Linked DNA regions of Homo sapiens. The protein of the gene in region 5 interacts with the protein of the main gene of each other region in a biochemical or structural test. Each region holds a gene or a part of one and is shown on either strand. Other genes may lie near its edges. The genes, in order: UBE2E2, UBE2N, UBE2S, UBE2J2, UBA1, UBE2D4 and UBE2Z.

Region 1 (3,500 bases), on a different chromosome or scaffold from region 5:
ATTGATTAGTTTCATTAATGAACTATTATAAATACTTTACGAAATTTTTTAACACAACTTTTAAGTCTCTGTGGGTCATACTTTCCATACTAGTCCATGTGTGCTACATGTGAGCAGCTGAACTCTAGAGGCACCAAAACTCAAACCTCCATAGCTGGTGCTATAAACCTTGCCTAGGCAAGGCTTCCTCTGCCTTTAGCCTGATTCTTGCGCTTAGCTTGCTTGGGCTCTGGCTCCAGGCTACGTCTGATTTTCTGGGCTCTGGTACTCACCCTGGCCCAACCTTATGCCCCCATTTTCACCCATAAAACATGGTGTTTTAATGTTACATTAAAACATATAACAAAGAAAGGAGATAATGAGGAGAAAAAGGAGGAGAAAAAAAACAATGAAATCAGTAAAAAGCTGGGGTGGAGGAATAACCTACAATTTTTTACATTGTTTCATTTTATACACTATCAATCCTGGGAAGCTGTCTGTGACAACAGAATAGACATGCATCCCTAGAATGCATATTTAAGAATAAGTATATGTATCTAGAAATATAATCCATATTGCTAAAAATCAATGAAAACTTCATACTGACCTTAGGGGGTTTAAACGGATAGTCTGGTGAAAAGGTAATGTCAAGAAAGAACACCCCTCCTTCATAGACAGATCCTGGGGGTCCCAATATAGTTGACCTCCATTCATAAATGTTGTCTCCTTTGGGTCCAGCACTGAAATAAGACATACAAATGAAATGTGCTTAGAAATTACATAAAGGCTGGAATTTAACAAAATCTATTTATGATAACCAATTGAGCAATTCCATAAAAACACAAAAAGTTAATCAGTTAACTCTCATGTTAAGATTCATATTGCCAATATTGTCATTATCCTAGAAGTGAAATATGTTGGTATCACTTCATAAAAGAACACCAAGATCCTCTTTTGCCATTCACAACCCTACGCCTATGGAACAAGAGTCCAAGGACTACAGGCCAGAGGTAGAAACACAAATGTTTAATGAAAGCATGAAATTATTTGTGATGTCAGAGACAAAATTTCAAAGTTAGAAGGACCTCTGGGGAATGACTAGTCTGATCCCTTTGCTAACAACTGAGAACACAAAGGAGGTTCAATGTTCATCATCCAAAGTCTCTGCTCAAATATCATATCCCATCTGAATCTTCCTTTCTTTCTCCCCACCCAAAGGACTTCCTGACCCATACATCATGACCAATGAGGTCTGTAGAGGATAAGATGTATCATTTTGTTTTATAACTGTGTTTTGCAACTAATGCTTCTTTCTACCCTCCCTAGAAGGTGCTTGAGGAACAGGTTGTACCTTGTCCTTAGTGCCTCTTAAGTCAGTATGTTGGATGATGATGAATTAATAACAAAGCAAGTGAAGAAGCCACATGGCTACTAGCAGTACACATGTCTCTGAGTTTCAGAGAATTTTGCTGAAAACAATATGGCCCACATGAGTCGAGTGAATTGTATTAGTTCTCTCAGGTGAAAAGAAGGGCAAAATGAGATTAGGATTTAGCTAATCCTAAGAATGGGCTCAAGCCATTCTTGGGTCTCAGCCTCTCAAGTAGCTGGGTTTACAGGCATGCATCACTGGACCACACCTGGCCCCTAGAAAATGTATTTTTAAATGAGTTGCAATAGGTCTTGTAGGGAAGCTATGAATAAAGTCATAAAAGATGTGTAAGATCTTTATGGAGAAAATTATATAAAACTTATTGAAAAGTACTCATAAGAGTTAAATAAATGGAGGGAGATACCAAGTTTATGGGTAGGGAGACCTGATATCAAATGTCAGTTTCTCCAAATTGATTCATCATAATTCCAATTAAAAAGTCCAACTGCTTTTTAAAACCAAAACTCGACAAGTTGATTTTAAAATTTTTTCGGAAGCTCAAAGAAATTCCTCAAACTTTTCCACACATATATGAAAACCTGATTTATGTCAACTGATGGGACTAGGAAAAGTTTTTATATTTGAAAAACAGAGAAACTGGATTTTTACCCTCAGTAAATAAACAAATGCTGTTGCAGATGGATTAAATATTTAAATGCAAAAGTCAAAATATTAGAGTTTGACTGAAGAGAGTGACAAGGCAAGCTGCAAACAGAAAAGATATTTGGATCATATAAAAGTGACCAAATACTAGTGTTGAGAATACACAAGTTCCTAAGAATCAACTAAAAAAAGACTCTATTAAAAAAGACATAGACATTTCCAAAAAAAGGGAAACATAAATGGCCAATAATCATATGAAAAATGCTCAATATCATCAAAATCGGGGAAATGAAACTGAAAATCAAAATTCAGTAATATTATTTTACAAAATGCAAATGCAAAAATCAATGCCTGACAAAACCACATGTTGATGAGGATGTGGAAAAACTAGAACTCCTATGTACTGCTGATGAGTATGAGTAATTCCTTCGGATGAGAATATAGGCTCATCTAGTTAAGTTGAATATACAGTTGACCCCTGAACAACAGGGTCTGCATTGCGTGGGTCAACTTAGATGAACTAAATTTCAAGAAAATACATTAGAAAAATTTGAGATTTGTGACAATTTGAAAAAACTCGCTGACAACGCACTAGCCTAGAAATATTGAAAAATTAAGAAAAAGGAACGTCATGAGTGCACAAAATATACACAGATATTAGTTTTTCTTATTTACTACCAGAAAATATATACCGATCTCTTACAAAGTTAAAATTATACCCACAAACCATACATGATGCCATGAGCATTTTAAAAGAAATGTAAGCAAACACAAACATAGAGTATTAAATCATAACTGCATAAAAGTAACTATAATACATACTGTACTACTGTAATAATTTTGTAGCCACCTCCTGTTGCTATTGCAATGAACTCAGCTATTGCCAATAGCTGCTTAAAATGCCTAAAATGCCACGTGACAAAAATCATCTCTGCATGAGCAGTTCATCTCTCCAGCAAATTGCGTATTGCCATAAAAAGTGCTCTCTCTCAGTTCTCGCATATTTTTCATTGTGTTTGTGCAATACCGTAAACCTTAAATAACACCATGGGATCCATACGAAGGGCCACTAGTGATTCTGGAAGTAGTCCCAAGAAGCAGAGAAAAGTCATGCCATTACAAGAAAAAGTTGAATTACTTGATATACACTGTAGATTGAGGTCTGTAGTTGTGGTTAGCTGCCATTTCACCTTGTAAACAGATGATGTAAACTCAGGGTAACAATAAACACGGTACAATACTGTAAATGCATTTTCTCTTCCTTATGACTTTCTTAATATTTTCTTTTTTCTAGCTTACTTTATTGTAAGAATACAGCATATATACATATAACATGCAAAATATGTATTAATTGAAATGTTTATGTTATGAGTAAGGCTTCTTGTCAAAAGTAGGGTATTATTAGTAGTTAAATTTGGAGAAAGTCAAACATTATACATGAATTTTTGATGGCACAGGGGGCTGGTACCTCTAAACCCTGAGTTGT
Region 2 (3,500 bases), on a different chromosome or scaffold from region 5:
GGGCAACAAAAGCAAAACTTCATCTCAAAATAAGAAAAAAAAAATGTTCAAGGCAGAGAGTAAAGCTACTCCAGTGGCTGAGGCAGGAGAACTGCTTGAACCTGGGAGGCAGAGGTTGTAGTAAGCCGAGATTGTGCCATTGCACTCCAGGCTGGGCAACAAAGCAAGACTCCCGTCTCAAATAAATAAAAGGTGAGTTTTCTAAATCACTTTTCTTACAAAAAAAAATACCTTATGCACTAGAATACCTATCAAATGAGTGGCTTTTAAACAGTAACAGGAAAAAATGTGTGTACTTCAAAAAATCCTATTAAAAAAGTAAACTCAAGTCTCAATGTAAAATCAGACTGTATCTGATTTTTAAGAATTTGAGGCTAAATCACACCAAATAGAAGAGTAAATTTTTCCACTGCACTTCAGCCTGGGTGACAGAGACCCTGTTTCAAAAAATTAATTAAATGTATTTTCTTAAGTAAATTTTTAAGCACCATAGACAAGGGACCAGTGGGGAAGGGAGACATAAAGTAAATTCTGCGAAAGACTGGTAAAATTCTAATTCCAGCAGGTTGACTCACTAGGTTTTAATCAAATAAGTCAACCCCTAGGGTAAGTTAACTACTTTTTCCCAAGACTGTATTTTATCATTTTCATTATTATCATTATTACTATTTTGAGACAGGGTTTCACTCTGTCGCCCAGGCTGGAGTGCAGTGGCGCGATCTAGGCTCACTGCAGCCTCAACTTCCTGGGCCAAACCAATCCTCCCACCTGTCTCCTGAGTAGCTGGGACTACAGATGTGTGCCACAACACCTGGCTAATTTTCATTTTATCTTTTTGTAGAGACAAGGTCTCATTATGTTGTACAGCCCAGTCTTGAAACCTTGGGCTCAGGGGATCCTCCCGCCTCAGCCTCCCAAAGTACTGAGATTATAGGCATGAGCCACAGTGCTCAGCCCTCATGATTAATTCTGAAAAGACCATTAAAGGAATGTCAGTCACTGTATCAACGTAACATGTAAAGCTGAAACAGATTTGGTTTTGACCAAGGCCATAACTATAGATCTCACTTATCGGTTCCCGAAAGTGATTCTCCTTTATGACAGGATTATGCAGAACCTCTCATTTGAGGGACATTTTAGGTACCTCCTAACCTTTATGACTTTAAGCTTTAACTGCTCACTTTTTTTTTTTTGGTGGAGATGGAGATCTCACTATGTTCCTCAGGCTGGTCTCAACTCCTGGCTTCAAGCAATCCTTGGGCCTCAGTCTCCCAAAGAGCTGTTATTACAGGTGTGAACCACCATGCCCAGCTTCAGTCACTTTTATTGGCTAAAAGAGCTTTGGTCCAGAAGATAAGGCAGAAAAACGAAACTAAAGATTCTAGCTTAAAACAGAACTACTAAGACTCAATATCACTCACACTTGTGCAAAATGCCATACATACAAAACTTCGTTACAGCATTTTTTATATAGCACAATTTAGGAAACATTCTGAAAGTTATGAATAAGCAATTAGTTACAATAAAGTCTAGGCCAGGCACGGTGGTTCATGCCTGTTAACCCTAGCACTTTGGGAGGCCGAGGTGGAAGAATCACTTGAGCCTAGGAGCTCGAGAACAGCCTAGGCAACATGGCAAGACCCCATCTCTACTGAAAAAGTATTAAATTTCCAATATTTGAAAAAATAAAATAAAGTCTAACCATAAGGTTCCATTAAACAGCCCTTTGAGAAAAAAAAAAGAGCCAAAGCAGAACACTATGATGCATGTCTGTAATCCCAGATACTGGAGGCTGAAGGTAGAGATCACCTGATATTAGGAATTCGAGGCTGTATGTATATAGTGTACTATGATCACGCCTGTGAAAAGCCACTGCACTCCAGCCTGGGCAACAAAGCAGCAGTCTGTCTCTTAAAAAAAAAAAAAAGTCAACTTGAAGATACATAGGTGGTTAGAGGGGAAGAGAAGGGAATCAAGGTATTTGCATGAGAAGGAGAAGACGCCTAACTTATAGCAGAAAGTTGCTCTGGTCTTCTTGTAAGGATACACAATAAAAATAGTGGTTGAAGTCGGGTGCAGTGGCTCACACCTGTAATCCTAGCACTTTGGGAGGCTGAGGCAGGTGGATCACTTGAGAAGAGGAGTTTGAGACCAGCATGGCCAACATGGTGAAACCCCATCTCTACTAAAAATTAGCCAGGTGTGGTGGCACATGCCTGCAGTCTCAGCTACTTAAGAGACTGAGGCAGGAGAATCACTTGAACCTGGGAGGTGGAGTTTGCAGTGAGCCAAAATTGCACCACTGCACTCCAGCCTGGGCAACAGGGGGAGACTCCGTCTCAACAAACAAACAAACAAACAAAAACAGTGGTTTTCTAAGCAGGGGAACTGGAATGCTGAAGGACAGATGAGGGATTCTCTACGTATCCTTCAGAGCCTTTCAAATGTGCTCTATGTGTGCATTTCCTAGTTAATAAAAAAAGATACATAAGCAGAGTAGGCACACAAAAAAGAAATAATGTAAAAGATTGATGTCCTTTTTAAGTGAGCTTATGGGTGGAAAACGAGACTAGCTTTAACTTTTAGCTCAGACATTGGTTCAGACAGAATATACCAAGGAGTAACAATGTCAAATTATTGCTCATTGAGATTAAGGCTCATCTATTCAGTTAGTCTATTAATATTTCAGTATCTACTATGTGCCAAGGATTGGTCTAGGCACGAATGAGCAATGCCCGGGATATCCAAGAGTCCCTAACTTCATGAAGGTTTAATGGGGAATAGAGAGAAATAAACAGTAAATAACATAACTTCGAACAGTAATAAGCACTTATACAGAAGAAAGGGAGATAGGAGGATAAAATTGTGGGGGAGGAAAAAGGGAAACTGGTTTATACGGGACAGGTTAGGTAGAGGGTATGACATATGAGCTAAGAACGGAACAACTGGACAAAGCAAGCAATGCAACAAACTGGAGGAAAGTCCTGTGACTGGAATAAGCTCAACCACTTATTGTTCAGGGTACAGCAAAGCAACAGTGTGGCTACAGTGGAGTGACCCAGAGAGAGAAGTGCAGATGCGCTCAGAAGTAGGCATCCCAAATGAATGCAGGGCCTTATAGCTAAGGGGTGGGGGGGAAGGCAAGATTCTAATGTAAGTGTGATGGAGAACCTCTACAGTTTTTAGCAGGGGAGTAACATGGTCTATATTTTAAGAAGATAACACTAGCTGCTGCTCCAAAGTAGGCTAATACAGGAGGCCAGGCAGTAAATGATGGAAGTGAACAGAGGTTTGAAAGACAGGGGGGAAAGTGTCTGATTTAGTACATATATTGAAAGCAGAACCTACAGAATTTGCTACTGGATTAGATACAGGAATCTAAATGAGATAGCAACTGGGTGAATAGTAGTCCAGAAAATCATCTTGTATTTGTAGTTAGTCATTTTACAGTAACAAGAGACAGGGGAATGTTACACTAATCAAGATCCAAATTCTGCCTC
Region 3 (2,772 bases), on a different chromosome or scaffold from region 5:
GTCCTCCGTGGAACTTGCTGGGTAACGGGGGAAACGCCAAGGCCCCCTCTCAGGAGTCCATTACTTGCCTGAGCCCCAGACTTGAGTCCTATTATGGTTTTGAATTTGCCTCCATGCAGTTCAGCATGACCTTAGAGGCCCTCTGGTTCAACGAGTGAGGCCTGCAGCCTGGACAGAGAGAAGAGACTTCCCCAGGGCCTCAGGATTTGAGGAAATCACACCTGCGTGTTGGACTCTAAAGCTCCCCATCTTTCCAGATACAGCATAAATCCTGACCTCTGTCTTTTATCAGACATCCGAAGTTCACAGCCTAAGACTCTAGCTGGGTTGGACCACACACAAGAGGGCAAGACACCAGGACTGCTGGCTGAGGTGCACTTCGAGGGTGGTCCAGAGATTCCTCTCAACCCCCTTCACAGCCCGTCCTGAGGGGTAAATTGGAGTGCAGAGGTGTGACCTGCAGCCAGGCCTCCAGCAGCCCCAGCTGGATCCTCTGAAGTGGGTCTGGGCAAACTGGCCACAGCAGTTTGCTCCCTGGGGCCACTATGACACATACACAGTACCTGGCTCAGCAGATGCTCAGCAGATATCACTGATGGTGACCAGGACACAGGTTCCCACCCTAATTCTCATCACTGCACCCAAACTGCAGGTCTGGCTGCTCTTCTTGCTGGCTGAGCCCCTGACAGGCCCAGATGCTGACCTAGCAGCAAGTAGGCCTGGAGCTCGGTGCCAATGTCCCCAGCAGCCTCCAATGACACCCCAGGGGAAGGGAGGCGGTACATGTGGGAGGGAAGGGTTTGGGGTCTGTTTACCTTGGAGCTCAATCCTCTCCCTCCCCATGGCAGGAAACCCCAATTCCCCACCCTCTCTGCCATGTGCCCCAGGGACTCATTAGAAATTTGGTTAACTTTTTTTTTTTTCAGCTTGCGGGAAGGGTTGGGAGGCAGCAGGCTGTAAGCAGCCTGGAGCACCAGCCTAGACCAGGACGCCTCCACCTCAGCAACACCGCAGCCAGGTCATTCTGTGTCATGGAGCCATCTCGTACGCTGCAGGATTTGGGCAGCACCCTTGGCCTCCACCCACTAGATGCTAGTGGCACCCCCGAGTTGTGACAACCCTTTCTGGTCTCCTGACAATGCATAATACCCCTTGGGGGGCAAAATCACCTCTGGCTGAGAAACACTGGTTTATGAACCCTATCGCTATTAAAAAACCACTGAACTGTATACTTTGGAACTGAGTTTTACGGCATGTAAGCTCAGCTTTAGCAAAAAAGCCTCTAATGAGACCCCATCTCTGCAAACCATAAAAATATAAAAACTAGCTGGGTATGGTGGTGCATGCGTGTAATACCAGCCATTCAGGAAGCTGAGGCAGGAAGATCACCTGAGCCCAGGAGTTCAAGGCTACAGTGAGCTATGACTGCGCCACTGCACTCCAGCCTGGGCAACAAAGAGCCAGTATCTTTAAAACAAAAAGAAAGAAAGGAAAGAAAGGGAAGAAAGAAAAAGGAAAGAAAGAAGAAAGAAAAGAAAGAAAGAGCTTCTAACTAGACCCTTGACCTCCACCTGTCAGAAAACTGTCCTACAGGGTAGGCGCAGTGGCTGGCTCCTATAAGCCCAGCACTTTGGGAGGCCGAGGTGGGAGGATCACTTGAGTTCAGGAGTTTGACACCAGCCTGGGCAACAAATGAGACCCCATTCCTGTTTTATTTTTTATCTTATTTTTTTTTTTTTTTTGAGATAGAGTCTCACTCTGTCACCCAGGCTGGAGTGCAGTGGCGCGATCTCGGCTCACTGCAACCTCTGCCTCCCAGGCTCAAGCGATTCTCCTGCCTCAGCCTCCCAAGTAGCTGGGATTACAGGCATGTGCCACCATGCCCGGCTAATTTTTGCATTTTTAGTAGAGACAGGGTTTCACCATGTTGGCCAGGCTGGTCTCGAACTCCTGAGCTCAAGTGATCCACCACACCTGGCCTACCCTATCCTTGTTTTTTAAAAAAAAGGGAGAAGAGAAAAACCATCCTACAATACAAACTCACCACTCGTTGCATAGTAAGGTGCTCCTGGGCACTTCTCAACAGTACTTGGGTGTCCTGGGTCTGGCACTGTTTGTCTTTCCAGGAAAGCTAGCAACATGGATTTTTATGTGGAAACCTTCAACCACTTCAGAGTTGATTCAGAAAAACTAAACAAAGCGCTATGGCTCAGACACCAGCAGACCTCCAGAGGCAGGAGGCAGGAGGCCCAGCCCCAGCCCAGAACTCACCAGCAGTACGTGTCGGATGCCCAGCTCAGCCGTCCAGTCCCTCTTGAGCACGTTGACGCAGATCTCGCCATTGGCGCCCACGTTCGGGTGGAAGATCTTGGTCAGGAAGTAGCCCTTGGGTGGGGAGGCAGGGAAGTCCTTCCCCAGCAGGAGTTTCATGCGGAACAGACCTCCAGCATATGGGGTCCCCTCTGGAGTGGAGGGAGGGGTACAGGGTCAGGGCACTCAGGAGTCCCAAGGCACCTCAACACCCCAAAGTCCAGTCTCCACGGTCTGATTGTGATGCAGGTGGGTGCCCCGCCAACTCTGCCAACAGACTGGAGGATTCTTTTTTTCTTTTTTTGAAATAAGGTCTCTTGTGTCACCCAGGCTGGAGTGCAGTGGCACAATCTCAGTTCACTGCCGCCTGCAATTCCTGGGCTCAGGTGATCCCATCTCAGCCTGCCAAGTAGCTGGGATTACGGGCATGCCACCAGGTCTGGCTACTTTTTTATTTTAAGA
Region 4 (3,500 bases), on a different chromosome or scaffold from region 5:
ATGGGCAAGAGTGACTTACACGGCAGGAAACAGCCAGTTGAGCGCAGAGGGTGCTGGGAGATGGACACCCTGCTGCCTCACTGCGTGCGCACACCTGTCGGGATGGGAGACGGGCGCCCTGCTGCCTCACTGCGCGCACACCTATCGGGAAGCCCCAGACGGCTATCCCACTGCTTGTCACCCGCCAGAGAAACCCAAGACAAAGGCACCAAGAGCCACACACACACAGACGTTCACAGCACCAGATGAAAATCAGGAAGCACCCACTTGTCCTGAAGTGGGTCCCTGGCAGCTTGAACATCCCCACACCCCAGGCCATCTGCTGAAAAGCCTGAGGCAAAGGCCTAGCTGGCTACTCTGCCCCATGGCCTGTCCCTCCTCTACCACTGCCTGACCCTCATCACTGGGGTAAGTCTTGAAACCACAGACTCCACTTCATTCTTTAGAAAAATGGTTTTAACTGTTCTAGGTCCTTTGCCTTTGCATGTAGCTTGTGTAGTATAAAAAACTGAGATTTTGTTAGGACTGTGTGAAATCTACAGATTCACTCAAGGGGAATGATTTAGCAACATTTGTAGGAAGCCAGCTCTGAACTGTCAGAGTGGGCACGCCTGGGCAGCACCAGGGGCAGAACAGCCACGGAACCCAGTGCACGGAGGGGACGCAGCTAATGCACAGGCAGGAAAAGGGGTCAGAAATCCCGAAGTCAGGAAGGAAGCTGTCGTCAGCAGCATCAGATACCAGAGGCTAAGAAACTGAGGACTGAGAACAGCCCCTCGGCAAGTGGCAATTCGGAGGGGTTCCCTGGAGACCCTGAAGGAGAGCAGAGGGCAGGGCTGCAGAGAGCAAAAGGCATCCCCCAGTGAGGGGGAGGTCCGCGGGGACGGGAGCAGCAGTGCCATAGAGGGAAATGGGAGGGGCAGTAGGAACACACATTCTCTCTCTGAAGGGAGGCTTTCCTGAGACCCAGGACCAGCACAGAGCCACACACGGTTGTGGGGAACAACGGAAGCGATGGGAGGGGACCAAGATAAAAGCACAAGTGACAGGGTTGGGGCTGGCAACGGCCGCACCACACCCAGGGGCTGCCCCCTCTTCTCCCAACTGTGTCCAGCCCTGTTGGGGGAGCAGCTCATCTCCACCAGCAACTGACCTAGCTGGTGAAGTTGAGGGAGACTGGGTGTGGATACAGAATTAATATTCACTATTTATTTTTAAAAAACTAAAACCACAAAACAAACAAAAAAAATGTAAAGCTGGCATAATTTTGCTTGTCAAAGACCACCACCCATTTTGGTTTTTTTTTTTTTTTTTGAGATGGAGTTTTGATCTTGTCACCCAGGGTGGAGTGCAGCGATCTCGGCTCACTGCAAGCTCCGCCTCCTGGGTTCAAGCGATTCTCCTGCCTCAGCCTCCTGAGTAGCTGGGACTACAGGGCCCCACCACCACGCCCAGCTAATTTTTTGTATTTTTTTAGTAGAGACAAGGTTTCACCGTATTAGCAAGGATGGTCTGGATCTCCTGACGAGTTTCACTCTTGTCACCCAGGCTGGAATACAACGGCACGACCTCGGCTCACTGCAACCTCCGCCTCCCGGGTTCAAGTGATTCTCCTGCCTCAGCCTCCCGAGTAGCTGGGATTATAGGCATGCACTACCACACCCGGCTAATTTTGTATTTTTAGTAGAGATGGGGTTTCTCCGTGTTGGTCAGGCTGGTCTCGAACTCCTGACCTCAGATGATCCGCCCACCTCAGCCTCCCAAAGTGCTGGAATTACAGGCGTGAGCCACCGCGCCCGGCCGACCACTACTCACTCGGTGGTATATATTCTTCAGATCAGCTGAAGGCACACACACGCATCGTAACAAGTACTTTAACACGCCCTGGACACCTGCTCCCGGGCCTTATCTCACCACGGCCTGCTGGCATCCCCAACGCTGGTCATGGGCAATGACACGATGATGGAGGGCCCACCCTACAGATGTACTCCCGCACTCTGGCTGCCCTAGTTGCAGATGATCCAGAACTGGGATTCCTGGGCCAAAGGAGAGTCCACAGGTGTGGCTGTGTTAACTCGGCCAAAATGCCTTCAGGAGAGCCTTTTTCATTCTTACCCACCCACAACCCTCCCGACAGTCCAAAGCAGGGGTTGCAAACCTTCTTCTAGCAGCAGCACTCTCTTCTAGTGAAATCTCATCCAAAGCCTCCACACACAGGCAAACAGAGCCTGCTGCTCCAGCCACCTGAAGCCGGGGCCCTGTGGCTGGACAGCAACTGCTGACCTGGCCCTGCTCTGCCTTGTGCTTGCCGGCGGGACAGTATTCACGGGCACACTGACTACTGACCTGGTCCAGATCGAGGCTGGCGCCAGCCTCCGCCAAAGGCCCCAGAAACTTACTGACAGCTCCAGCATCTTCTCTATAAATGACACTAGGTCTCTAGGTGGTGTCTGCTGACCTGGAGGGGTCAGGCTGCTGGATCAGCCTTGGTAGTCGATGAAGGGCTGAGGTGCTGGACAGGTCCTGCAGCCTACCGAAGCCCCAGGTGCCACCACACAGGGGTACTTCCACTTAGCTCAGAGACCGTCCTGGGGATTGCGAAACCCTGGGGGCGCCCAGCACAGAAGGCACACTGAATAACTGAATATATGTGCCTTTCCTTTGATGATATGCACTGGGTCTTAAGAAATAGTAGAACAGGCCAGCTTCAGTGTTTACCCCGGTCTGGTTTTCTCAGCTATGGCCCTATGGTGTCAGAGGCTGGTGAACACAGACGCTACAGGCGGCCCTGCAGGCTGAGACACATCAGCAGAGCAAACACTTCCAGCGTGTGGAGAAGCAGACGAGGAGGAGTTCCAACTAAGCCAATTTAACTAGCACACATCCAAAGTAGAAAGGCTGCTGTTTGCAAATAAAAGATGTTGAACAGGCAAGGCTGACTGAGAATATAAAAACCGCCTGGTGTTCTTCTCCTAAGCACAGAATCCTTACCTTCATAAGGGGTCATCTCTGGGCCTCGGACGACATAGTGCCTAAGGGAGAGAAGAAAATTACTTGGGATTTGAGGACAGCAAATTCTCCAAAATCTGAATCATTCCAAGCCTGGGGTTTATAGAACCCAGCCAAAATTACATTCACATTCAGGCAGTGAACAAATGAAGGTGAAATGTCACACAGCCACACGGCTTCAAAACCCCCGTCTCTTCTACCGTGGGTGCTTTTAGTCTCTTGTAACAGGATCTTAGAGACTATACTTTATAAGTTTACCATAAAGTACCTTTGTTTCGACAATATAACATGCACGAAGCTCATCTTAATAATAACTGAAATCTTAAATAAATTTTAATTTCACAGTACATTACTAAGATGTACTTGAAGACTGTAATCCCAGCACTTTGGGAGGGCACGGTGGAAGATCGCTTGAGCCCAGGAGCTTGACACCAGCCTAGGCAACATAGCAAGACCCCACCTTTATTTAAAAAAAAAAAGTTAGCCGGGTG
Region 5 (2,400 bases):
TAAAAATCACGAAGTATGCCTGCAGGCACTGGCATTCGGCAGAGCTGTTTAAGACACCCCTGCAGCAAGGAAATTGAACTAAGAGCAGCACAGGCATTCCTGGTGCTGGGAACCATGACCACAAAAGGCTGCCCAGGGTCTGAGTGCTTTGAGCCAGGTGGGAGGGGATCTGCCCTAAGGACATAAGGCACGCTGGCCATGCCCTAGCAGCCTGGTCACCGTAACTTTCCTCTTCACAGAGCAAGGAGTTAGGACATGGAGAAGGTGAGAATTGAACCCAGCTCAAATTAACAGTCACATGGACCCAAGTACCTGCTCACTATGGCCTCACTGGTGCCTCCATCTCTTCCTAGGCAGAGAGGGCAGGAAGAGGTGGCAATTACATTTTCTTTGTCCAGAAAACTGGCAGGTGTGGTGGGGTTGAGCCCTCTGAGTTATCATCTGAACCAGACAGCTCCAGGAAGTCCCTTCCTTCCCTGGAACCAGCAGGGCAGGCGATGTGGGAGTTATTAATTCTTTATTAGGATTCAGGTTTCAAACAAGGTAGAAGGCAGTGGCAAGAGGGGTTCAGGTAGGGGGATGATGAGGGAACACCAGACTTGGCTAGTTGGGCCACTGCCAGAAGCCAAATGGGAACCCTGGGCTGGAAGGGGTGTGGAGAGGGGTGGACAAGGGGCCAGCCTAGAGGAGCAGACGGGGTCAGCGGATGGTGTATCGGACATAGGGAACCTCGACATCCTCGCCGCTCTCGTCGTTACAGCACAGCTCAAGCACCAGCGCCCGCACGTGGCGGCCCAGCTTTCGCTTCGACACACGGCTCACAATCTCTGTCATCCTGGGGATAGGGGGATGGGAGTATAGGGTCAGGAGGGCAGAAAGCAAGAGAGGATGGGCAGGTAGGTAGGGGCAGTGAACTGGAGTGGGACAGCTGGATGATGAGGCTCCCCAACCCATACAGGGCCTCCCCTAGCCTGGCCAGTGTCCAACTCACGGCTGATCCAACCGTTCCTTGAGCTTGGCAGCTGGCATGAAGAAGGAATAGAGCATGGACACGCCCTGGGACAGCATGGTGATCTCTAATTTGTGCTCTGTCTGGAGAGGGAGGGGGAACAGCAGGGTCATGGAGGTGGACAGGCCAGCAAGTCACCGTGTACACCTCGCCCCCTGAGGTGGGGTGACAGAGTAAGGGAGGGGCCTTACCTTAAAATAGTCGAGGAACTGTTTGAGGGTCATCTCCTCACCATTAGGCTGCAGCCCTTGTACCTCAAAGCGATCCCACAATGTCCACTCTTGGTTATAGTACTGCAAGACAAAGAGGGGAGTGTAAGATGGAGACCATCCCAGAGGGTCCAGCCCCCATCTGTCTCCATCCCCCCTACCCCCATGCAGACGTGTTTAGTCAGATCACAACCCTCTTTTGTTCGAAATCCTCTTGTGGTTCCTATCTCACCCTAAGCAATGAAATTCTGTTTTCTTCTCATCTCCTACCCTCCTCAATCTCACACTCACTCTGGGGACTTTGAATTCCTCCAACTTGCCAGGCACACCCCTATCTTGGTACCCTTTCAAGAACTGGTCCCTCTGCCTGGAATGTGTCCCCACTCGCCACCAAGCCTGCACAGTTTGTCCCCTTACATCCTCCAAGTCTGATCTCAAATGTCATCTTTTCAGCAAGGCCTTTTCTGACCATCCTACACAAAATCTCAAATACATCCCCTCGCCCCCTGGTATTCTCAAGTCCTCTTTATCTTTTTTTTTTTTTGAGATGCAGTCTCGCTCTGTCACCCAGGCGGGAGTGCAATGGCGCCATCTTGGCTCACTGCAACCTCCGCCTCCCGGGTTCAAGTGATTCTCTTGCCTCAGCCTCCCGAGTAGCTGGGATTACAGGTGCCTACCACTACGCCTGGCTAATTTTTTGTATTTTTAGTAGAGACAGGGTTTCATCATGTTGGCCAGGCTGGTCTCAAACTCCTGACTTCAGGTGAACCACGTGCCTCGGCCTCCCAAAGTGCTGGGATTACAGGCGTAAGCCACCACGCCCGGCCTCTTTTTATCCTTTTTTGATTCCAAAATCATTTAATAGGTTATTTATATAATCTACTTGAGGAACATAACTTAGAAGAGTCCCTGCACACAAAAGGTGCTCAATAAATATTTGAGTGAATTCATTAATGAAGCAAGCAAAGCACTTAAGTGTAGGAAGCGTCCAATAAATTTTGGCTGCCATTATTGTGTAGTTACTAATAATCTCCCAGGGCACAATTCAAATATCCCATCTTTTCGCACGTACTCAAATAATGTGATTAATGAATAAGTGAAAAAGGATACACAAAAAGGGTAGGTACACAGACAGAAACCCTCACCTGGTGACAGGGTATGACGTGAATCAGAACCAGATCT
Region 6 (3,500 bases), on a different chromosome or scaffold from region 5:
AGTAACAATGATAAAAGTGAGAAGTTCCGAAAAAGAGAAAGTAAGTTAAAGTATTGAATAGTAGTAGAGAAGAGTTAAGCAAACCATGGTACACACTCAGTTATTCCTTTACGGTGTTTCGTCAACTCCAAGACTCCATCCTTTATAAGACACAATTTTACTTTACATACAATTAGGAAAAAAAAAACATGCTGGCAAATAAACTAACACAAATGCTTTCTTTGCACATAAACTTTAATTGTATTTAAAAATTACTTTTATCAGGCTGTGTACAGTGGTTCATGCCGGTAATCCCAGCACTTTGGGAGGCCGAGGTAGGCAGATCGCCTGATGTCAGGAGTTCGAGACCAGTTTGGCCAACATGGTGAAACCCTGTCTCTACTACAAATACAAAACTTAGCTGGGCTTGGTGGCATGTGCCTATAACCAGCTACTCAGGAGGCTGAGGCACAAGAATCGCTTTAGAGGGTGATGCCATGGGCAGGGCAGAGCATCTGGGGTCTTTTGGGAGCCTCCAATCCCCAACAGTTTCGCAGAACACTGATATCTATGGACTCTAAAATGGGCTTCATTTAAAGAAACCCACAGACCATTAATGGACAAAAACATGAATCTATATGTATTGTGACATTCCAGTCCTGGCACTGTGGGAGAGCATCAAGTACCACGTTTTTGAAGACCATGGCCTATCATCATTATGCGTTCAAGATCTGAGTTTGAATAACCTCATCAAGACTTAGATCTTCTTCAAAAGCTTCAAGTCTCATCTGCATTAAAGCTCTCCATTGAACCCTCTCACAAAAGTGCAAACTTAAAGGGACTAAAATCCGTTAACACATTCCATTTTATATCCCTTCTTCTGACTTCTCTTCAATTTCCTTGGCCTCTGGGGCCCTTTATATTGCTTATGTTCCTTTAGGGCCAAAGTGACAGTGCTTTCCAAAAAAAAAAATATGTATTCTGTGGCCATAAGTTTACAGAGAAGCATAAATTTAGCATGATGAATTTAGAATTAGGTCTTTTATGGTATTCTGTAAAAAGTTGAATTAATAATAAGAAAATGAGGATGAAGCAGTAAAAATATTTTGGGTTAGAATATACTCTCCAAAGCTATGTGGTTTAGAGAAAAGGGCCCCCAACCTAAAAGTTAATAGTTCTTATTCTGTCTCTGCCTTTTACTAGGTAACTGAGAAAGTCACTTAACCTCTCTGAACCTTAACTTCATTATCTATAAAGCGTAACTGATATTTTCCCCTCCCTACCTCACAGGGTTGTTGTGAGGAACAAGTGAAACAATGTACATAAAAAGACATATAAAATGTATAATACAGACAAAGGGTCCTGTTACGTAGTTGGAAGTCATTCCCTCAGATCTTGGGCCTAGGAAGATAGGTGATTTAAGCTCACTGAAAGCATGTACCATGTCCAGGCTGAATACATGGTAACAAGGCTATGTTACATTTTTTTTTTCCCTGAGTTGAGTACCTAAAATACCACATGGGCTAATTCTAAGAAGGAGCACCACTATATATTTCCCTAAAATTATAGCTTAGCATTGTTAATGCTCTAGAGCAGTTATGCATTGTAACATATTAGTGATTTGTGAAAGATTTTTACTAAAACGTGACCAGCATTTTTCTTTAAATGAAAGAATGTAGAATATTTCACAATGCATCCCATGTGATGAGAAAAAATATTTTTTTTAGTTATATGTACATATGCATGTGTGTGAATGTGTGTGTGTACTTGGTCATTAAATAAAATGTACTTTTTCTTCTTGTGGGAAAAAAAAAAAAGAATTGCTTTAGCCCGGGAGGTGGAGGTTGCAGTGAGCCAAGACTGCGCCTGTGTGACAGAGTGAGATTCTGTTTCAAAAAATTAAAAAATTAAAATTACTTTTATCAAAAGAATTATTTTAGGCTTAAACATAGCTTTGTGTGTTTCTTGTTAAGTATCATTCATGAATACAAAAAAAAAAAAAAGGAAAAACAAGTGAAATAAATAAACTGGTTTGTTCAGGTATTCCTAAAGTTTCTTCCCATTCAGAGCCCAACACTGAGTCATTGATGTCTACACAATATCATCCTCTGTGTCTTCCAAAACAATGGTAATGTGGCAATTCTTAGAGTCCTCTACTACTCTTCCTGGAGTTTTCTTTCAAGCCATGAATACTTATTCTGCAAAGGCCCATGATACACAATCTATTTGCACGTATTCCAGAAAAAAAAAAATGACCCAGTCTCACCAACTTGAGGGTAGGTGGTACCTTCCTTTCTGTGGCTATGAAGAATTTGGTTGCTTGACATGGAATTAGGAAATTCCAGTCCTTCCTCCAACAACAAATATTTGCTCCCTTATTATGAAATTTACTCGTCGTTGTCCTGTTTCTGTGCCTGTGTTCACAAAAGCTTTTCTTTTCAGTGCTAAATCACACTATCTTTTTGAAAATATTTTTAAAACAATTAAACTCAACAAATATAGTACCAGCAATGCACTTACCTCATAATGAACTGCCATGATGGTTTACTCATACAGATAGTGACATCTAAGTGAAGGTAACCTGGCTGACAGCTATTGTAAGAAGCATCCCAATTTCAGAGACGTGAACATTTGAAAAAATATTCATCTTGAAGTAGATGAATATGGTATTATCTTATTTCCAAGTTCTCTTTATTTTTTATTTTTATTTTTAGAGACAGGGTCTCACTGTGTTGCCCAGACTGGAGTACACTGGCACCATCTCGGCTCACTGCAACCTCTGCCTACTGGGTTCAAGCAATTCTGGTGTCTCACCCTCCAGAGTAGCTGGGACTGATTACAGGAACGCACCACCATGCCCAGCTAATTTTTGTATTTGTAGTAGAGATGAGTTTCACCATGTTGGCCAGGCTGGTCTCAAACTCCTGACCTCAAGCGATCCTCCTGCCTCAGCCTCCCAAAGTGCTGGGATTACAGGCCTGAGCCACCACGCCCAGCCCCAAGTTTCTTTAAAGAACAATTACTACCTTTATAATCAGAAGTTAACTAAACTTTTTTTTGAGAAACTAAACCAAGTATTATGCAGCCACTGAAAATTAGTTTTTAAAGACTACAGAATAACAGGAGAAAATGTCATGATACAACATTAGAGGAAAAGGGCAAGAAAAAAGCAGAGTATAAAATTTGATGCACTACATGACAACAATCTGAAACACATACACATCAAAGGCACTGAAAAGAAATCCACAAAAATGTTAACTACAATTACATGAATAGGTAGAATATATATATATATACACCCACACATATATATGTACGTATATGTATATACACACATATAAGTATATATGTTATATATATACACACATACATATGTGTATATATATGTGTGTATATATGTTATATATATACACACATACATATGTGTATATATATGTGTGTGTATATATATATATATATATATATATATATACTTTAACATTTGTTGCCCCCAGGAGGGGAACTGGATGGCACACATTCCA
Region 7 (3,500 bases), on a different chromosome or scaffold from region 5:
TGGGACTAGAGGCATGCGCCACCATGCCTGGCTAATTTTTGTATTTTTAGTAGAGACGGGGTTTCGCCAGGCTAGGCTGGTCTCGAACTCCTGACCTCAGGTGATCCACCCGCCTCGGCCTCCCAAAGTGCTGGGATTACAGGTGTGAGCCACCGCACCCGGCTGAAATTTTCTACTCTGTGATTCTTTATGGCAAATTTTCAATTTCAGGGCAGCTTCTCCTTTTCTACCTAACACACTTCTACTACTTTTACCCCACTGTCCTGTGGCTGGTATCTCAAAAGAGTTTTATATTGACCCAATGAGGGAGAGCCTACTTTGAGACACGCTTTCGCGAACAAATTTCATACAGAAGCAACGACTAAATTTCTTTATCATCATGGGTTTTAGCCTACCAGCAAAGACAATTAATTAAGTACCCTAACGAGATGAAGTACTTCTTTAAGGACAACCTCCTTTAAAAGACTTCTTCACTGCCAAAATCACAGCAGAACATATCCCTGGGTCTGAGCAAGTCCTAGAAAAATGAATCATGTCTCTAAGTTTATTTCAAATGCTGCTCTTCCCTCACACAAACCTGGAAACATGTTGGATAGCAGGAAAACAGAATAATCAGTTTGGGGGTACTTTCTCAACTTCAACCTGCACGTGTTCTCTGTCCCAGAGAAGTTCAGACCACTATAAAAACACCAATCCAAAATATGCGAGAAGATGTCCACACTGAGTTTTCAGCCCCCAAAGGCAACTAAAATGGGAACTCTATGAAGCAAAACCTCAGAAGCATCCAGAAAGAAGATGCACTAGAAACTCATTTCATATCTAATGTGATTTCCAATCTCAGACATTTGTCATTATTAAAATATTATAATCAGGTCAGGCATGGAGGCTCATGCCTGTAACCCCAGTGCTTTGGGAGCCACAAGAGGACGACTGCTTGAGGACAAGAATTCAAGACCAGCCTGGGCAACATAGTGAGATACCTGCCTCTACCAACAAAACAAAACAAAACAAAAACAAACAAAACAAAACAAAAATGAAACCATAATGATCACCACCACCACCACCGCCACTGCCTTCAAAGCAACTTATTGCAAGACTCAAATTAAGACACCCCAAATCTTGAATGGCACAGACCTGCAGCCTTTCTCAACCTGTTCAGGAGAGAAAATAAGGCCTTAACACCCCAAGAGAGTGGTTCTGAAACTGCAGTATGCACCACAATCATCTGGAGAGCTTGTAAAAAACAGATTTCTGGGCCGGGCACGGTGGCTCATGCCTCTAATCCCAGCACTTTGGGAGGCCAAGGTGAGTGGATGATGAGGTCAAGAGATCGAGACCATCCTGGCCAACATGGTGAAACTCCGTCTCTACTAAAGATACAAAAATTAGCTAGGTGTGGTGGTGCACGCCTGTAGCCCCAGCTACTTGGGAGACTGAGGCAGGAGAATCGCTTGAATCTGGGAGGCAGAGGTTGCAGTGAGCCAAGATCGTGCCACTGCACTCCAGCCTGGCGACAGAGCAAGACTCCGTCTCAAAACAAACAAAAAACAACAACCAAAAAAACCAGATTTTTGGCCCCAACCCCAGAGTTTCTTTTGTAGGTCTAAGATAGGGCCCCAGAAACTGCTCGGCTACAAGTTCCCAGATGCTCAGGGCCACACTCTTAAGAGAACCACTTCTCAAAGGTTACCACTGTAATAAATTAACTTCTCCCCTCTGCATCTAGAATGATACTAGTCACATACCATCCTGAGGAGATTTGAGAAGAGTCACTCAATCATTTTCTGTGTTCTGTAGTTCAGATGAGGGACTCCGGTTGATAAAGGCTGACCTAGAGTAATTATCTGCTAACAACCGACTTGGCTACTTAAAAGTCTCCTCTTACCCTAGAATACTCAAGCAGACTTTCCCATTGCGGTAGAAGTTGGGGTTAAACCTCACTGTGTTATTGCCCGTTGTCATCAGTTTGACCCGAGGTGGGTGGATGGGATAGTCGGGCGGACACCGAAACACGAACAGGAAGAAACCCCCTTCATAAGGAGTGTCAAATGGGCCTGTGATCAATGCATGAATCTGCAAAATAAAACCCCATCTCAAAATTGTGAGGTGATGACCCACCCCAAGCCCTCCTGGCTACCCTCCACCTACTACCCACACCAGAAGCAGAGTCCATAATCTGGTACACATGTTCTATATCCTCACCATGCAGAAGGAACATCCTGTATTCACTCATACTAATACGTAGGTTTGGAATTTTAAGAAATCTCATTACAGTGGAATGACATCTTACTCAGGGGTTACTTCTAAAGTTAGAGCCCAAGGCGAAAACTGAATCTAGTCAAAATCACTCTTGAGTATCCCCTAAAACTCTCTTAAAGCATTTTTTTTTTTTGTGCAGACCTCCCTGATCAGTGTTACATATAATGGATAAAACACCACTGTGGAAAAATATAATATGCTTATCTATAAAATATAACCCTAGCGTTTTTAATTTTGAGAAATCGACACAGATTTTGACTGAATATATGTTTGGATTTGCCCAGGCCAAACATGCATATGATGCAACCCCACCCTACATTTATGTGGCACGAAGGGAAAGTATGATGAAAGGAGACGAAGAAAGGGATTGGAGGCCACAGCCCAGTGCCAGTAACACAGCAGGGTTAGGGGGTGTGATGGATGCCTAGGGTATCTGCTTGCTTCCTCTGCAGAGGATCAAACCTATTGTGGAGGATGTGGCTCAGGCAGCACATCATGACTGAAAATGGGGAAGACTCAGGGTCCACTCAGAGCCATTAGACCAGTCCCAGAACTTTCCCCAATACTGTTTAAAAAAAAAAAAAAAAAAAAAATCAGCCGTCCTGAAAACGACACTAAATTCTCTTCCCCCTCAAGCCATAATTCTTCAACAGGATTTCCCCCCCTGAAGGGAGGAAAACCTGAACTGACTCAGTTATATTTCTTCTTCCACAAAGGCTCCTAGGCATTTAGGTCTGCTAAGCATTTGAACAGCAAAAGGAAAGGGACGTGGCAATCCAATGCCTAAGTCTATAGTTCCCACCTTGCCCTCCTGGCAAGACCCTACGTCATATTCTGGCTCTCAGTCATTTGGAATAGTAAACTCAACTGGTCTCAACATGGCATCAACTCTGGGACCCCAGGTACTAGGCTATTAACACTGGTACTTGACTGAGGACGAGATGTCCTAGGAAAAACATTTCTAACTACATAAAAAAAAAATATGAAGGGAAATCTATTCAAAACAACAAAAAAAGATACACCAACAATACAAAATCTGAATTTTTACTGTAAGAAATTTACTGTAAGAAAACTATGTGTTTCACTTAAACAGCATTAGGTTTAGGAAATATGATTTCTTTCTAACATCAGTTTAAGTGCAACTGCACTTCTGTGGGTAGAGCATTCAGTGACAGAGAAACCTAGGTATCTATGCCAGAGAAATGTGACATTATGTATTAAGCTTTCTCTCTGAGAGGAGG

Evidence for each region.
Region 1: of the proteins of UBA1 (region 5) and UBE2E2, one has a biochemical effect on the other in vitro, tested with the Homo sapiens proteins (4 studies listed by BioGRID, with this or other methods).
Region 2: of the proteins of UBA1 (region 5) and UBE2N, one has a biochemical effect on the other in vitro, tested with the Homo sapiens proteins (10 studies listed by BioGRID, with this or other methods).
Region 3: of the proteins of UBA1 (region 5) and UBE2S, one has a biochemical effect on the other in vitro, tested with the Homo sapiens proteins (8 studies listed by BioGRID, with this or other methods).
Region 4: of the proteins of UBA1 (region 5) and UBE2J2, one has a biochemical effect on the other in vitro, tested with the Homo sapiens proteins (2 studies listed by BioGRID).
Region 6: of the proteins of UBA1 (region 5) and UBE2D4, one has a biochemical effect on the other in vitro, tested with the Homo sapiens proteins (4 studies listed by BioGRID).
Region 7: of the proteins of UBA1 (region 5) and UBE2Z, one has a biochemical effect on the other in vitro, tested with the Homo sapiens proteins (3 studies listed by BioGRID).

What each region holds. Positions count from the first base shown.
Region 1 is NC_000003.12:23,496,827-23,500,326, reverse strand, and holds part of UBE2E2 (ubiquitin-conjugating enzyme E2 E2), read right to left. Parts: intron 720-3,500; coding exon 587-719; intron 1-586.
Region 2 is NC_000012.12:93,435,448-93,438,947, forward strand, and holds part of UBE2N (ubiquitin-conjugating enzyme E2 N), read right to left. Parts: intron 1-3,500. UniProt on the Homo sapiens protein: The UBE2V1-UBE2N and UBE2V2-UBE2N heterodimers catalyze the synthesis of non-canonical 'Lys-63'-linked polyubiquitin chains. This type of polyubiquitination does not lead to protein degradation by the proteasome.
Region 3 is NC_000019.10:55,402,017-55,404,788, forward strand, and holds part of UBE2S (ubiquitin-conjugating enzyme E2 S), read right to left. Parts: intron 2,463-2,772; coding exon 2,272-2,462; intron 2,132-2,271; coding exon of another isoform or gene 1,985-2,131; exon of another isoform or gene 1,947-1,984; intron 1,327-1,946; exon of another isoform or gene 1,116-1,326; coding exon of another isoform or gene 927-1,115; intron 642-926; exon of another isoform or gene 574-641; intron 1-573. Other genes in the region: RPL28 (large ribosomal subunit protein eL28), read left to right, coding at 927-1,115. UniProt on the Homo sapiens protein: Accepts ubiquitin from the E1 complex and catalyzes its covalent attachment to other proteins. Catalyzes 'Lys-11'-linked polyubiquitination.
Region 4 is NC_000001.11:1,260,355-1,263,854, forward strand, and holds part of UBE2J2 (ubiquitin-conjugating enzyme E2 J2), read right to left. Parts: intron 3,033-3,500; coding exon 2,992-3,032; intron 2,037-2,991; exon of another isoform or gene 1,931-2,036; coding exon of another isoform or gene 1,915-1,930; intron 1-1,914. UniProt on the Homo sapiens protein: Catalyzes the covalent attachment of ubiquitin to other proteins. Seems to function in the selective degradation of misfolded membrane proteins from the endoplasmic reticulum (ERAD).
Region 5 is NC_000023.11:47,213,229-47,215,628, reverse strand, and holds the end of UBA1 (ubiquitin-like modifier-activating enzyme 1), read right to left. Parts: intron 1,303-2,400; coding exon 1,201-1,302; intron 1,093-1,200; coding exon 992-1,092; intron 836-991; coding exon 700-835; 3' UTR 501-699; downstream 1-500. UniProt on the Homo sapiens protein: Catalyzes the first step in ubiquitin conjugation to mark cellular proteins for degradation through the ubiquitin-proteasome system.
Region 6 is NC_000007.14:43,932,936-43,936,435, reverse strand, and holds part of UBE2D4 (ubiquitin-conjugating enzyme E2 D4), read right to left. Parts: intron 1-3,500. UniProt on the Homo sapiens protein: Accepts ubiquitin from the E1 complex and catalyzes its covalent attachment to other proteins. In vitro able to promote polyubiquitination using all 7 ubiquitin Lys residues, but may prefer 'Lys-11' and 'Lys-48'-linked polyubiquitination.
Region 7 is NC_000017.11:48,911,407-48,914,906, reverse strand, and holds part of UBE2Z (ubiquitin-conjugating enzyme E2 Z), read right to left. Parts: intron 2,074-3,500; coding exon 1,886-2,073; intron 1-1,885. UniProt on the Homo sapiens protein: Catalyzes the covalent attachment of ubiquitin to other proteins. Specific substrate for UBA6, not charged with ubiquitin by UBE1. May be involved in apoptosis regulation.